Regions from separate parts of the Homo sapiens genome. Here region 1 is linked to region 2. A link means that fine-mapping ties the variant in region 2 to the expression of a gene that starts in the linked region. Tissue or cell type: esophagus muscle. Region 2 holds a variant in brackets; the other region holds the start of a gene. All regions are shown on one strand. Distances are from middle to middle.

The links. PIP is the estimated chance that this variant, and not a neighbour inherited with it, causes the effect.
Region 1: MRPL15 starts here. The variant in region 2 is fine-mapped to the expression of MRPL15 in esophagus muscle (GTEx, PIP above 0.99).

The regions. Positions count from the first base shown.
Region 1 is chr8:54,131,152-54,139,257 of GRCh38, reverse strand. MRPL15 (mitochondrial ribosomal protein L15) reads right to left here and starts at 4,017. Exons shown (of 5, transcript NM_014175.4): 1 at 3,867-4,017; 2 at 2,593-2,747; 3 at 1,825-1,990. The coding sequence starts at 3,974.
Region 2 is chr8:54,736,031-54,744,136 of GRCh38, reverse strand. It overlaps a transcript of RP1 not described here. Among named protein-coding and RNA genes, the nearest start is that of RP1, 120 kb to the right of the region's middle. The variant G/A (reference allele first, on the strand shown) is at 4,144.

The sequences.
Region 1 (8,106 bases), 600 kb after region 2:
GGAGGCCGAGGCAGGCGGATCACCTGAGGTCAGGAGTTCAAGACCAGCCTAACCAACACGGTGAAACCCTGTCTCTACTAAAAATACAAAATTAGCCTGGCATGGTGGCACATGCCTGTAATCCCAGCTACTTGGAAGGCTAAGACAAGAGAATCGCTTGAACCCGGGAGGTGGAGATCGCAGTGAGCCGAGATCGTGCCACTGCACTCCAGCCTGGGTGACAGAGTGAGACTCCATCTCCAAAAACAAAAAAAAAGCAGAAAATTAGCTGGGCCTGGTGGCAGGTGCCTGTAATCCCAGCTACTTGGGAAGCTAAGGCAGAAGAATCACTTGAACTCAGGAGACAAGAGGTTGCAGTGAGCTGAGATGACACCACTGTACTCCAGCCTGGGCCACAGAGTGAGATACTGTCTCAAAAAAAATAAAGAAGAAAGTAAAGCAATGAATCAAAGCACCTGCCCTCAAGGGAGCTTATATTCTAGTGAGGAAGACAATGAAAACAAATGCATAACTTGGTAATAAATGTCAAGTGCTCATATATATTCAAAGAAAAATACTTTGGGCAGAGTAAAGGAAACACTGTGACTCCTGAAGCAGGGCAAGTGCTCTTTTAAAAAGACTCTCAAAAAAGACCTTCCTGGCCAGGCGGGGTGGCTCACATCTGTAATCCCAGCACTTTGGGAAGCTGAGGCGGGCAGATCACCTGAGGTCAGGAGTTCGAGAACAGCCTGGCCAACATAGCAAAACCCCACCTCTACTAAAAATAAAAAAAATTAGCCAGACGTGGTGGCACGCACCTGTAGTCCCACCTACTCAGGAGGCTGAGGCACGAGAATAGCTTGAACCTGGGCAGCAGAGGTTGGCAGTGAGCTGAGATCGCGCCATTGTACTCCAGCCTGGGAGACAGAGTGAGACTCCATCTCTATTTAAAAAAAAAAAAAAAAAAAAAAAAAAAAGATCTTCCTGATATGTTGACATTCAAGCAGAGAACCAAAAGAAGGGGGCGCCGTGGGCGGTGGCTCACGCCTGTAATCCCAGCACTTTGGGAGGCCAAGGTGGGTGGATCACGAGGTCAGGTGTTCAAGACCAGCTTGGCCAATATGGCGAAACTCCATCTCTACTAAAAATATAAAAAATTAGCCGGGTGTGGTGGCGCACGACTATAGTCCCAGCTACTCAGGAGGCTGAGGCAGGAGAATTTCTTGAACCCAGGAGGCAGAGGTTGCAGTGAGCCGAGATCGTGCCACTGCACTCCAGCCTGGGCAACAGAGCGAGACTCCATCTCAAAAACAAAAACAAAAAAAAAAGAAGGCAAGCTTTACAGATATGCAGAAGAGCAGCATTCCAGGACCAAGGGACAGAGCCCTGCCATGATAGTATGACAGCTTTCCAAAACCACAGCTATCACCACTACATAACAGTTATAAACACAAATGGGCTAAAAATAAAGGGGGTAGAGTACTGATTATCTGGAAATCAAAAATATCTCCTACGGGCCAGGCATGGTGGCTCACACCTGTAATTCCAGCACTTTGGGAGGCCGAGGTGAGCAGATCACTTAAGGTCAGGAGTTCAAGATCAGCCTGGCCAACATAGTGAAACCCTGTCTCTACTAAAAACAAATAAAATTAGCTGGGCATGGTGGTGGGTGCCTGTAATCCCAGCTATTCAGGAGGCTGAGGCAGGAGAATCACTTGAACTTGTGAGGTGGAGGTTGCAGGAGCCGAGATTGCGCCACTGTACTCCAGCTCAGGCAACAGGGCAAGACTCTGTCTAAAAAAAAAATCCTCCTATATAACACCAAAAGATCTAATCAAGACTTACCTCCTCAACCAGCTGGACACCATAATCCCTTTTAAGTGGCTGGATGGTCACACCTCTCCCATTGACAAGCTGGGTTAAGTCAATAGGTTGACTAGGATCAACACGACCCAAATCAATAAGATACTGCAGTCTATTGAGACTCAAAGGCTTATACTGGCGTCTGAAACTGTAAAACAAGAATGTAAGAGTTGGAAAACTCTCATCTTCCTGTAACTTCTCGAAATCAACTCAAAGCTTTGTCTTGTGTTTTCCTCCACCAATTTTATTTAACTAAACAAAACCCTCTTGAGTGTAACACAAACATGTAATACTGCTTGATTTTGGGTAATGAAAACAAACCTGTACCACCTTTGTTCCACTAAAAATTATTTCCCTCTCTAAGCATTTACTTCACTTATTTACACAAATAAATCTGTGGAAAATTTAACTTACTATGGAGCTCAAAGTAATAATGGTAGTTATCATTTATTAGGTGACTACAGTGGGCCAGATTTTTATGTATACTGTCTATTATTGCTCACTCTTTTAATAACCATTAGAGCTGGCATTAGAATCTCCATTTTGCAGGTCTAAGTGCAGTGTCTGGGCCTCTTTTCCTTTTAATAATCCAGGCAAGATTTCATTACCAAAAAATGGTTCAGGGGAACAGTAGCAAAAGTTTGCTTCAAAGTGAATTTACAATTTCCACCAAAATTTCTACCAAACTATTTTTAGGTGCTTTTTAATGGAAATTGGGGACCTGTACTTTAAAAAGCAAAGCAACCTTACCTATGTCCTTCGTTAAACCCGTATTTTGGGATTCGGATGTAAAATGGAGTCTGGCCTCCCTCAAAGCCCAAGCGGGGCCGGGTTCCTCTTTGCCTTTCTCCTTTATGGCCTCTGCCACATTTTCTACCTCTTCTCCGACCTCTTGGTCTTCTCTCCTGCAAGGAAAAAAAAGAATTTTATGAATTTCAGATGCATTTCTAAAAACTGCATTTCAGCTCTTCACTTTTTGTTATGCTGTTCATTCATCCAGCCCACCAGTGCTAGCTAACACTATTGTGTCAAGCATGTCCTAGTTGCTCAAAGCTCCACACACTCTGTTAGCATCTTTGCCTCTAAAGACATAGCTAATTCTTGTAACCAAAGTCCAAGTGTGTTTCAAAAGCAAAAAGTAAAGGTTAGGATGGGGATAAGGTTTTTATAATAGGTTGAAACCGAAAAAAATCCTAGAATTAAATATTCACAACATTTTAAATGATAGGCAAGAATTTATTCTGAAATTAATTGTAAATATGCAAATGTTATTCATAAACCTGTAATTTTATTTGAAAACTGATCTGTTGAAGAAAATCTTTTCCTTAATTTCCTGTCATTTCACGAAAGCAATGAACTGACTGTTAAAATGACAGTACATTGTCAACTAACAGCTTTTCTAGCTCTATTTAGTCAACTGCAGAAGGGACAGCTGCAATTCAGATCTTTCCAATGAACATAAAGATACACCGGGAAAACATTTCATTTTAAATCCAATTTTGAATGACACAAAGACTTTGTAGTTTCAGCGAGTCGGCTTCTCCGCCTGGTATCTTTACACTTGTAAACATAACCTTATTAAGAACTGGGTGCGGCCGGGGGCGGTGGCTCACGCCTGTAATCCCAGCACTTTGGGAGGCCGAGGCAGGCGGATCGCGAGCTCAGGAGTTCAAAACCAGCCTGGCCAACACGGTGAAACCACGTCTCTACTAAAAATACAAAAATTAGCCGGGCGTGATGGCGGGCGCCTGTAATCCCAGCTAATCGGGAGGCTGAGGCAGGAGAATTGCTTCTGGGCGACAGAGCAAGCCTCCGTCTCGGAAAAAAAAAAAAAAAAAAAAAAAAGAACTGGGTGCACGTGGAAAGATTCCCCTCTGGGCAGTAAGGGAGAACAGGCATGAGGCAATCCTATTTTCATCCCAACACTCTCCTAGAAAGGGCAGTTCTCCTAATGACAGGGAGAGAAGGGCCGCTTTCATCGCCCGGGTCCCCAGCGCTTCCCCGCACCGCCACCACCCATTTACCGGTTTCTTGGAGCCGGGATTCGGCTTTAAGTTGGCCAGGCTCACACGCGGCAGGCCCCGGAGTAGGTCCAGGGCCCGGGCCCCACCGCCCTGCAAGGGACCGGCCATAACCCGCAGATCCAAGAACTTTCAAGGGCGCCCTGAGCTGCTCGGAGGCCACGTGGTCTCGGGGGCTGCTTTGTGGCCGTGGCCCCGCCCCTGTCGCGCTGCAGCCGCGCGCGCAAGCCCGGGAGTCGGGCAGAGGCGTGGGAGTCTGCAACCTTGTCTCGGTTGTCCTTTTAGTTGTTTGGGGATGTGATCTTATTTTCCGAGATCCTGCTTTGTCCTCGGGGTCCCTTTTAATATTCTGAACGTAAAACCTTCTCTTTCGCCAAACGAGAGCATGCACTAAAAACACTGCGTTAAATAAAGGATCTTTTTTGAGTCAGTGTTGGGCCTTGCCTGTTTGTCTAGGCCGTGTCTTCTCTGAGGTCAATGCAGAACCCAGAGTAAAGCAAAGTGAGCTGTCAATTATTAGCTTTTGAGCTTGCGTAATTATACACCGTGAGGTACGAAAATAAAACTGAGTGCACCTATCAAAATGCCTGGCTAATAACCAATCTTTGAATAAGACTCAAAGTGTGAACTCTCATCCGTGTGCATCTGTATTGTTTTGAGTGAATCGCAGTTAGTAACCACCTATTGTTAATGACTGGCGCCATACTGAATGCCTGGTGTATGCCAGACGCTGTATTAAATAAGCCTTACTCGATTTACAGCCATTCTAGAGGTAAATGGTGTTACTACATTTTACAGTTACAACAGGGAAGGCTTAGCAAGGTCCGATAGCTTGACCAACTTCTTGCAACAAGCGGCAGAGCCAGGATTCAAACGTACACTGCTTCCTACTATAAAAGTAGTATTTTTAGAATGTAAAATTGAGTATCTGCATCACAAAATACGAACATTATTACTCGAAAAATACCAGCTCTTCTTTTTTCTCTCAAGTGACTTAAATATAGAAAAGACTGTTCCTTTCTTTTTCTTTCTTTTAGTAGTGGTTTGACATTTCACTTGCTGGGGAGTTTTTTCTGCTAGCTCTAACTAGTAATCACAAATAATGAAGGTGAGACAATTTTTGGAGGGCGTCTGTCTCTAGGTATAACTGCGTCTTTTTAAAGTTCCTTTAAATCAAGTGTAAAATAACTACATAAAGAAAAAGTTGTATTCATTCCTTCAAGTACTATTTATAAGTAAGACACTGAACTTGTTGGAAATACACATGGATGAACTCAAATAGGATTTCATTCCCAAGTTGTTTGAAATCTAGTAGGGAACAGTTTCCAAAAGTGAATTATTATTATTATTATTTTGAGACAGAGTCTCGCTCTGTTGCTTAGGCTAGAGTGCAATGGTTCAATCTCAGCTCACTGCAACCTCTGCCTCTCTGGTTCAAGCAATTCTTCCGCCTCCGCCTCCTGAGTAGCTGGGATTACAGGCGTTCACCAGCACGCCCCGCTAATTTTTTTTTGTATGTTTAGTAGAGACGGGTTTTCGCCATGTTGGCCAGGCTGGTCTCCAACTCCTGGCCTCAGGTGATCCCCCTGCCTCGGCCTCCCAAAGTGCTGGGATTACAGGCGTGAGCCACGGCGCCTGGCCCGTGAATGTTTTTTAAAAGTTAAAGATAAAAGTAGGCCTCTTGTAGACTAATTAGCAAAAACAAAATATGTGAGTTCGATAAAATGATATGATGGTAAAGTCTAGACTCTATTTAGAAGCACAGAAGAAATAGAATGGGGTGTGGGGGGCAATAGAACCTATTTTCTGCCTTTAATGATTTTTGGTTTGTTTGTTTGAAATGGAATCTCACTCTGTCGCCCAGGCTGGAGTGCAGTAGCGCCATCTCGGCTCACTGCAGGCTCCTCACCCAGGTTCAAGCGATTCTCCTGCCTCAGCCTCCCCAGTAGCTGAGATTACAGGCATGCACCACAACGTACAGCTTTTTTAGTTTGTTTGTTTGGTTGGTTTTTTAGTAGAGACTGGGTTTCACCACGTTGGCCAGGCTTGTCTGAAACTCCTAACCTCAAATGATCCACCTGCCTTGGCCTCCCAAAGTGCTGGGATTACAGGTGTGAGCCACTGAGTCCAGCCTGCCTTTAGTGATTTTTAATTCAGTAGTTTTCATTGTGTTTTTATTAAACTTTCCTACCTTTGGGAAGAAAATTGCAAAATATAATTGCAAACTGTACCCTAATCTACAGAAAAGTGCACAATTATTTTCAATCCCCAAAAAATCATTGTTTGCATTAAGTAATGAACTTCTTGATTAAGTGTTAATGCCAGTAATGTTTTTTATCATGGAAAATTTTTTTATTGAATAAATAAAATACAAGAAATATGCTGCACTTCTTGGAAGTAGAAGTCGTATGGGTTATATAATGTTATTGGTGGACATCAGTTAATAATAATGGGAATAACAATTGTTGACAGTTAATTGTAGGCTACGTGTTTGTTTATCCCATATCCAACATGTTGATTAAGCATATAAAACTGTCAAAATAATTTGATGAGTTTCGTTTGTGTTGTAAGAATGTAAATTAAGGGTGTGTGGTCAATAAGTCAACAATCCTTACCTTAAGTATATAGTAGTTTTATGTCATCCTCATAATTGCACAAGTCATATTTATTACCCACCTACATGCTTGGGATGTGCTAAATCCTGTTTAAATCAAGTTAACAAGAACTTGTAATAAAAACATTAATATCTCAACAACTATTTAAGGTCCATCCTGATTCCAACCCCAGTTGATAATAACTGCTGAATCATTACATAATAACAATGAAGCCGGGCGCAGTGGCTCACGCCTGTAATCCCAGCACTTTGGGAAGCTAAGGCAGGCGGATCACCTGAGGCTGGGAGTTCGAGACCAGCCTGACCAACATGGAGAAACGCCATCTCTAATAAAAATACAAAATTAGCTGGGAGTGGTAGTGCATACCTGTAATCCCAGCTACTCAGGAGGCTGAGGCAGGAGAATCGCTTGAACCCCGGAGGCGGAAGTTGTGGTGAGCCAAGATCACGCCATTGCACTCCAGCCTGGGCCACAAGAGCAAAACTCTGTCTGAAAAAAAAAAAAAAAAAAGAATGAAGTGATACAATTTGAACTGCTTTGGAAGACTTCACACACTGCCACGAAATCTTCCCCAATCTATATATATATCAGCACCTGACAGTGTGTTAACATAGATTAATTCCTTTGAGTTAATTATTTTTCTAAAAAAAAGTTTTTTTGCCGGGCGCGGTGGCTCATGCCTGTAATCCCAGCTCTTTGGGAGGCCAAGGTGAGCGAATCACGAGATCAGGAGTTCGAGAACAGTGTGACCAACATAGTGAAACCCCGTCTCTACTAAAAATACAAAAATTAACCAGGCATGGTGGCATGAGCCTGTAATCCCAGCTACTCAGGAGGCTGAGACAGGAGAATTGCTTGAAATCCCAGGAGGCAGAGGTTGCAGTGAGCCAAGATCAGCCTGGGCAACAGAGCGAAACTCCATCTCAAAAAAAAAAAAGAAAATTTCAGGATTAGCAGAGAAGGGGACTGGGAAATGAAAATAAAAGGGAATAGGCTGGACACAGTGGCTCACACCTGTAATCCTAGTAAACCCAGAAATTTGGGAGGCCCAGGTGGGTGAATCACTTGAGGTCAGGAGTTTGAGACAAGCCTGGCCAACATGGTGAAACCCATGTCTACAAAAAATACAAACATTAGCTGGGCATGGTGGCAGGTGTCTGTAGTCCCAGCTACTCAGGAGGCTGAGGCAGGAGAATCACTAAAACCCAGGAGGAGGAGGTCGCAGTGAGCTGAGATTGTGCCACTGTACTCCAGCCTGGGCAACAGGGCAAGACTCCTCTCAAAAAAAAAAAGTTGAGCAGAAAATAACTGGAGAAGCAATATTCCTAAGTGAAGGTGGGAGAAAGCCAGAGGCAGGAGAACAATGAATCCCTTTGATATTGGGAGAAAACTAATATTGAGAGAAGGCTATGAAGAGGGCATGGAAAGGGGCTGGAAATAAATGTCCCCTTGATAAAACTTAACTAATTTTGCCTTGATAAAACTTGGTTCCAACCTAAAGGTCTTTATTCACACCTAAATAGGTTTTAATTTTATTGAAGTATTGTAATGCCTACATATGTTGAAAAAATCAGATAGTACAGAAGGGCTTATAATGAGAAGTAGTTGTTTCCTATTCCATTTCTAGT
Region 2 (8,106 bases):
ACAATATTCCTTTCATAGAATGTTAATAGATTTTACCTGAAAAATATGACCCCATGGTGAATTTAGTTTTGGAAATGCTGTTAAACAGATTTCCCTACCACAGGGCATCCCAGAACCTTTACTATATTTATTTGCATTGTGACTTTCCAAGAGAGGAATGAAAAACTCAGTGTTTCCAAAACTCATGTGGGAAACTCAGTGTTTTCCACACTGGAAACATTTATTGGGGAGCATCTTGGGAAAGCAGAAGCATGGCTGGCTTTTTACATCATGGGAAGCGGCCTCAGGGCTGAGGTGAATGGGCATTAGTGGGGAAAGTAACTTCTTTGAATTGCTCACGTAAATACTGGTGTCTAAAAACCATTCTCCACTAAATTAAACTAGGGCTCCTTGAGAAATAGGTAATTCCAGGGCTAGGGAAAAGAAAGTACTAGATAAGCCTGAAACATCTTTTCAAATCAGAAAGTAAAGAAGTCCTCGTAGAACGGACAGTGACATGTGAAAAAAATATAGGGGCTTACAGGAAAAAATGAAGGATGATTTCAGCATCAAAGTAAATTATGTTAATAAAGATTAACCCATCAAATAAAGTAAGAATCTGCAAGTACACGCTGGTATGAATAAATAAATGAAATTTTGAAATGGAGAGAAGGAAAAAGTTCTACCTTGTAGTAGAATGCCAATTAATAAATAGAGAAATAACAATAGAATATAAAAATCACCATTTGGCCACCATCACAGTAATAACTGACTAAGGCAAAAATCATCAATGGATCCTAAAATTAGTGGGTAAAAATTTTATGGTGAATACGATATTTACATAGCCAAAGAATCAATGGACTTCATGTCAGTAAATATTTGTCAAACGATTAAGACATACATATAAACACACAAACATATATATATATTTTAACAGGGAATGGTAAAGTAGATGGAGTGCAACCTTAACAACTGGGAATCTGAGTGAAATTTGAGTTCTTTCTTCCATTCTTGCAATTTTTAAAATAAATTTGAAATCACTTCACAATAAAAAGTAAAGTAAGGTGTAGGAAAAGTCCCTTCTCTTACATTGCTTTGGTAATGACAGTTTCTAGCTGCTCAATTCAATCAATTAATTAGTGTTCTACCCACTTTACTCTTCACAGAAGCCTTTACCACTGACCAGAGGAATGGATGATGCCTCCCTTGGTTCCCAGGACTGAGTGCTCCTTCCTTGGACAGCTTCTGCTGGGGATGTTTTTTCCTCCAGTTGAAGAATCACTACGTAGTGATGTTGCTATACCCCTCAACCACTTTTCTCACTCACAGGCCCCAGAGAAAGCACATCCATGCTATTGACTTCAGGCCCACTTAACTCATGGGTAAGTTTCTTCTAAAATTTTAGTTCTGACTCACCTTTCCCAGTAATTCACAGGCACAGAGCTTCTGATTTTACTACACTTTGCAGGTTCCATGGTTTTTGCATCTTCTTAAAAGGTCATTGCTTTTCTCATCTTAGAATTCTTTCAATGCTTCTAAATAGAAAACTTTAAAGTCACCAAATGGTTTCCTCAAATCCTCCATATCATCTAGCATAATGCAGGGCATGTATTAGGTGCTAAGTAGATATTTCTTGACTTACTGACTGGAACATATTTACCTGTTCCTGAACTATTAGAAAACATTTCATTATATAGGCATGTCCTAAGAAATACTACAATAAACACCTCAGCAAAATTAACATTTTTCTCAATTACTTTTATTATACAACCAAAGATACAATAATAAAAATCACAGATAAAATTAAGAAACACTTAAAAAGAAAGAAACATTTTGCTAGACTCTATCAGTGGTATTCCAAATTTTAAACCTGAAGCATTTTGGAATAACATATCTTGTACTGTAAAGGAACCAGTGACAGATATAGTATTTAAAGCCAGAAAGCAAAGATGTTCTATGATTCAAACCATTTCATCTGACTCCACTATAATCTAGTGCTTCCATACAGAAATCTCAAGGCTTTTAAGTGTTTAATTACCATCTATTTTTGAAAATAAACTTAAGGCCCAATGATAGTGCTTAAGATCTCAGTCTCTGGAGTCCAACATACAATAAGACCATTTACTGAGGAACCTCAGGCAAATTACTTAACTTGATCGAGCCTCAGTTTTCTCATATGTAAAATAGGATATTAATGGTACCTAAATCAAAGAGCTGCTATTAGGCAGAAATACAGTGGTATTTGTAAGGTAGGTGGCATATGTTAAGCACTCAACAAATACTCATTATTATTATTATTGTTATTACTGCCATGATTAAATAAAAATGAAAAAATAAAAAAACCAGGATCTCAAAGTGCATACATAGCATGATTCAATTTCACTAAAAGGGCAAAGCACATATAAACATATATATATATATATATATATATATATATATATATATATATACACACACATTTGTATTTATATGTACATATTTAAGGTATTTATTTATACATATGTTTTTATATATATTCATGTGTTGTTTAACAATGGGGATACTTTCCAAGAAATGCATTGTTAGGCAATTTCATTATTGTGTAAACATCATAGAGTGCACTTACACAAACCTAGATGGAATAGCCTACTACATACCTAGGCTATATGGTATAGCTTATTGATCACAGGCTACACACCTGTGTAGCATGTTACTGTACTACAGGAAATTGTAACACAATGGTAAGTATTTACAAATCTAAACATATTAAACAGAGAAAAGGTAAACTAAAAATAGAGCATGAAAGATTAAAAATGGTACACTTGTATAGGGCATTTGCCATGAATGGAGTTTGCAGGATGGAAGTTGCTCTGGGTGAGTCAGTGAGTAAGTGGTGAGTGAATGTGAAGGCCTAGGACATTATTGTACACTACTGTAGGCTTCATTAACAATGTATACTTAGGCTACACTAAATTCATAAAAAATATTTTTCTTTTTTCCATAATAAATTAAACATTTAATTTTTTAAAAACTTTTTGACTCTTTTGTAATAACACTTAGCTTAAAACACAAACACACTGTACAGTCATACAAAAATATTTTCTTTCTTTATATTCTTATTCCATAAGCTTTTTTTTTTTTTGAGACAAAGTCTCACTCTTGTCCCCCAGACTGGAGTGCAATGGTGCAATCTCAGCTCACTGCAACCTCTGCCTCTGGGGTTCAAGCGATTCTCCTGCCTCAGCCTCCCGACTAGCTGGGACTACAGGCGCCTGCCACCACGCCTGGCTAATTTTAGTAGAGATGGGGTTTCACCATGTTAGCCAGGCTGGTCTCCAACTCCTGACCTCAGGTGATCCATTCCACTTCGGCCTCCCAAAGTGCTGAGATGACAGGCATGATCCACCGCACCCGGCCCATAAGCTTTTTTTCTACTTATTTTATTATTATTTTTTTTAAGACAGAGTCTCGCTTTGTCGCCCAGGCTGGAACGCAGTGGTGTGATCTTGGCTCACTGTAACCTCCACCTCCCAGGTTCAAGCAATTCTCCTGCCTCAGCCTCCTGAGTAGCTGGGATTACAGGTGCATATCACCACGCCCAGCTAATTCTTGTATTTTTAGTAGAGATGAGATTTCACTATGTTGGTCAGGCTGGTCTTGAACTCCTGACCTCATGATCCACCCACCTTGGCCTCCCAAAGTGCTAGGATTATAGGTGTGAGCCACTGCGCCTGGCTCTCTACTTAATTTTTTTTTTTTTTTTTTTTTTTTTTTTACTTTTTAAGCTTTCTTGTTAAAAATAAAGACATGAACATACACATTCGCCTAGGCCTGCACAATGTCAGGTTCACCCATATCACTGCCTTACACCTCCACATCTTGACCCATTGGAAGATATTCAGGGGAACAACATGCATGAAGCTGTCATCTCCTATGATAACAATGCTTTCTTCTGGAACACTTCTTGAAAGGCTGCCTGAGGCTGTTTTACAGTTAACTTTTTGTTAATAAGTAGAATGAGTTAATATAAGTATAATAAGTTAATAAGTAGAATGAGTACACTCTAAGTGATTAAAAGTATATGGCATTATATGTATATATATAAAATATATTTTTATATATATTAAATTACATATATATAAAACACACATCCCAGTAACAGTTGCTTACATTAGCAAGTATTAC[G/A]TACTGTACATAATTGAATATGCTATTCTTCTACACAACTGGCAGCACAGTAGGTTTGTTTACACCTGCATCACCACAAATACATGAGTAATTCATTACAATAGGACATTACAACAGCTGTGACATCACTAGGCAGTAAGAATTTTTCAGCTCCATTATAATCTTATGGGACCACCATTGTATATGCAGTCCATTGCTAATCAAAACATCCTATGTGGCACATGGCTATATTTTACATTGATATTTACACATATATATGTGCTATGTGTGTGTGTATGTATCTATATCTATACCGAGAGACAGAAAGCACACGAGTCTGCAAGGAACCATGAAAGAGATTCATAGAAAAAAGATATGAAAAAAAAATGCACCACCGAGTGGTCATCTAATGATCAATGAATAACAATTCATTTTGTTCTTACACTTCACCGTATTCTTCAGATTTCTATGAACAGATTATCTTTGCAAATATAACCATAAATATGCTATTAAAAAAAACCTTTCGCAAGAATGAACCATATTTGTTTAGAGTGTTATGTCCACAAAAATTTTGTTCACATTATTTACAATACGGATGGTCCTCAACTTACCACAGTTCAACTTACAATTTCTTGAGGTTATGATGGGTTTATTGGGAAGTAACCCATCATAAGTCAGAGAGCTCTGTATGACCCATGATGGGTTACAGCTTTTATTGAATAGATGTCGCTTTCACGCCATCATAAGTCGAAAAATCTTAAGTCAAACCATAGTAAGTAGAGAACTATCTGCTATGTCAGTGGCATTAAATTCATTTTTGACTTAGGATATTTTTTATTTACCATGAGTTTACAGAGGCATAACCCCACTGTAAGTCAAGGAGCATCTGTAATTAGGAAAATACCGTTTTCACTGCTTTACATAGCCAGCTTGCTTCTTTTCATCAGAGAATAACTATGAAGAAAAAAATAAGTGACATGATTACCCTCTGCAAGTTCCACTCGGGTTGCTCACTGGTTCCATCATGTCCTATCCTTATCTTATATATGTTTCCAGTGTTTCTTATTTCAACCTGAATGAAATGCAAAGGAGAAAAAAATTATCAGAATTTTTTAAATTAAGCACATTAAAAAATTCTTTCTTTTTACACTAACTGCATTTTTTGTTCCTAATAGTTAAAAAGCTCTCAGGAACTCTTTCAGAGTCTAGAAATGAAATGCCCTCAAGAAACAATCAGTGAACCTCACAGACACAGAGTATGAGACAGAAATATCATGAGACTTGACTAAAAATATGCAGAAGGAGTCAAATGAGAGAACAGGATGAAGAACACACATATGCTCAGTTCTCTGACTACCACACATTTCTCACTGGAAGCCAACACTTTCTGAGTTCCAATGACAGAAAGATGGGCTTGTATTTTAAGAAATTAAAAAAAAAAACAATTTTCGCCAAAGAAAAGCTAAATATGGTGATTTCTACAAGCTTAAGAAAAGTGTGAGTCTAGAACTTCCTTGTACTCTGAAAATCCTGTTGTCTTTGATGATACCTAGGTTAAGATATAGATGTTCTACGTTCAAGGAAGAGAAGCAAACCTGCCCACAGAATATGGGTGCTGATTTAGTTTTTGATGTGGCCCAAGAGTATTTGTTAATCCAGGTAGCATTGTGGAGAACTGGCTTTGGGAATCACTTTTAGCTCAACTGGAAGCCTAGCTGTTGCAAACGGAGTAAAATATGTTTTTGTAAACTGAGTAAAGTATGTTTTTTTTACTTCTCTTATCTTCAATTTCTTTATCTGTTGAATGGTCACATAATGCTTTCTGCATAAAATTTTCAGTTCAACTAAATAAATGTATATTAAAACAATAAACAATGTGCAAGTCCACAGGTATGCGAAGATGAAAATGACGGCACAATCTCTAACTTGGAGAAATATACAGACTAGCAAGGGAGACAGACTTATAAGCAGATATTTTTAGTATAATAAAATATGTCCAGGACACTGAACTGTGAGGATTTTTTTTAAATGTAATATACCACCTTATTGCTTAATGGCTTCAATAATAGCCATTGTTATTATTTCTACTACAGGCACCAATCTACCTCTGCAGACTAGAGATATAAAGAGGCAGGCACTTGCATATTATGTCTGACTAGACATTGCCTACCTATGGACTAGACCCTGAAAGAGCTGGGACAGTCAAATCACCCAGAAACTATCAGAACTCCTTTTTCATACCCAGTTCCCATGCTTAGAATTCTTTTTTTTAAGTGCCCACCACCACTTTCCCCTACAGACTGCAGCAGCTAGAACAGACCTGGGCCTGTTTCAATGCCAGGTCAAGAGAAATTATGCTGTTCTCAACTGGGAAGAAGGAAAATAGGGATGTTAATCCCCAACAGCCAATTTCCCCCCACTTCCTTATTCCCAGAGCTGGTTTCAGTGGCAGAACTCAGAGGCTAGCTCTTCCTCCCAGAGGAAGCAGGAAGTTATCCTCCAGTTTGAGGCTAGTTTGTCTCTAAAAGGTAAACCACACTTTAAATATCCTTTCATTGTCCCAAGAATCTATTAGCACTTAAGTGTAAACTTCCTTTCTCCACAATTTAAGTGAAAACAATAAAGGGATATCTGAACAGTCTGGTTACCAAGCATATGTGACTTGATACCTATCTGTCTGTTAAGGCAGAAGAGCAGAACTAACTGCCACTCAGGTCTGTGCCAGCCAGGGGGGAAAGACTTGACATGCTTGTCCCTTCCAATCCACACAGTCACCCTGTGAAGGGTAAGGCTCTTTTAAGTGTCTACTTTAAAAGATGAAGAAATTCAAACAGGTTAAGTCATTTGTCTAAGGATACACAGCTGGATACACAGAAAGTTCCAAAAGTAAAATTTGAACCCAAGTTTAATAAAATATCCCACATTGTCCTCAAAAATGGCTATATGCTCACTTCAGGACTGGAAAGAAGGAAAAGAGAATGAAAGACAAACTTATAAGTGGCAAATGATGCCAATGAAAAGGAACAAGGGAATCAATACCCACAGAGAAGAGAGTGTATAAATGTGTCAATTCATTCTAATTTAGGATTCTCAAACTATCATAAGACCCCAGTCTTATGAGTGCCCATTAACCCCTAGGCCAGTGCTTCTCAAACTTTAGTGCACACACAGATTACCTGGGGATCTGGTTAAAATGCAGATTCTGATGCAGTAGGTCTGGGATGGGAACCCAAATTCTGTGTGTTTAACAAGATCCCAGGCAATGCCCATCCTGCTGGCCTGGAGTCCACAAGACTCTACACTCCTGGGGGCTTCCATGTGTAGACCCAATCTCCACCACTGAGGTAATAATCTAAAGCTATTCACACTTCACAGTAAATGACAGAGGCCAGTAGAAAACATATCCTGAGCCATTTACCAGCAGAGGGAGTCCTTGGTGCCTGTAATCTGTCATCTGTAGAGCACTTCCCATCTACCAGGTGCAGCGCACGGCACACACCTTCCCAGGCATTCTTTAAACTACACAGCAAGGCTTTTAAGTGAGTATTATTACCCACCTTGTGCTAAGTAGGATACTGAGGATTAGTAAGGATAATCAGTCTATTTAACGTCACAGAACTAGTGAGAGGGTGATTTGAACCTGGTCTCTGACTCCAAGGCTTCTGTTCTTAACCAGTTTATGAGTTTTACCGTATGTCAATAGGATTCCTTTTTTAATTTATACACATTTTCTCTTTTTGTCATCACAATACCTTAAAATTTAGAAAGAAAAGATCTTATTGCCTGTATTCTATACATAAAGATAGTGCTGGCCTGGAGAAATTAAGTGGCATATTCAAGGTCACATAACTAACATGTGGGAAGCAAGGACTCCAATCTAGCTCATCCGATTTGCAGTCTAGTGCTATATCCAGGATTCTCAACCTTGGTTGCACTTTAGAATCACTTGGGGAACATCTAAAAACCTCAATACCCAGACTGTAC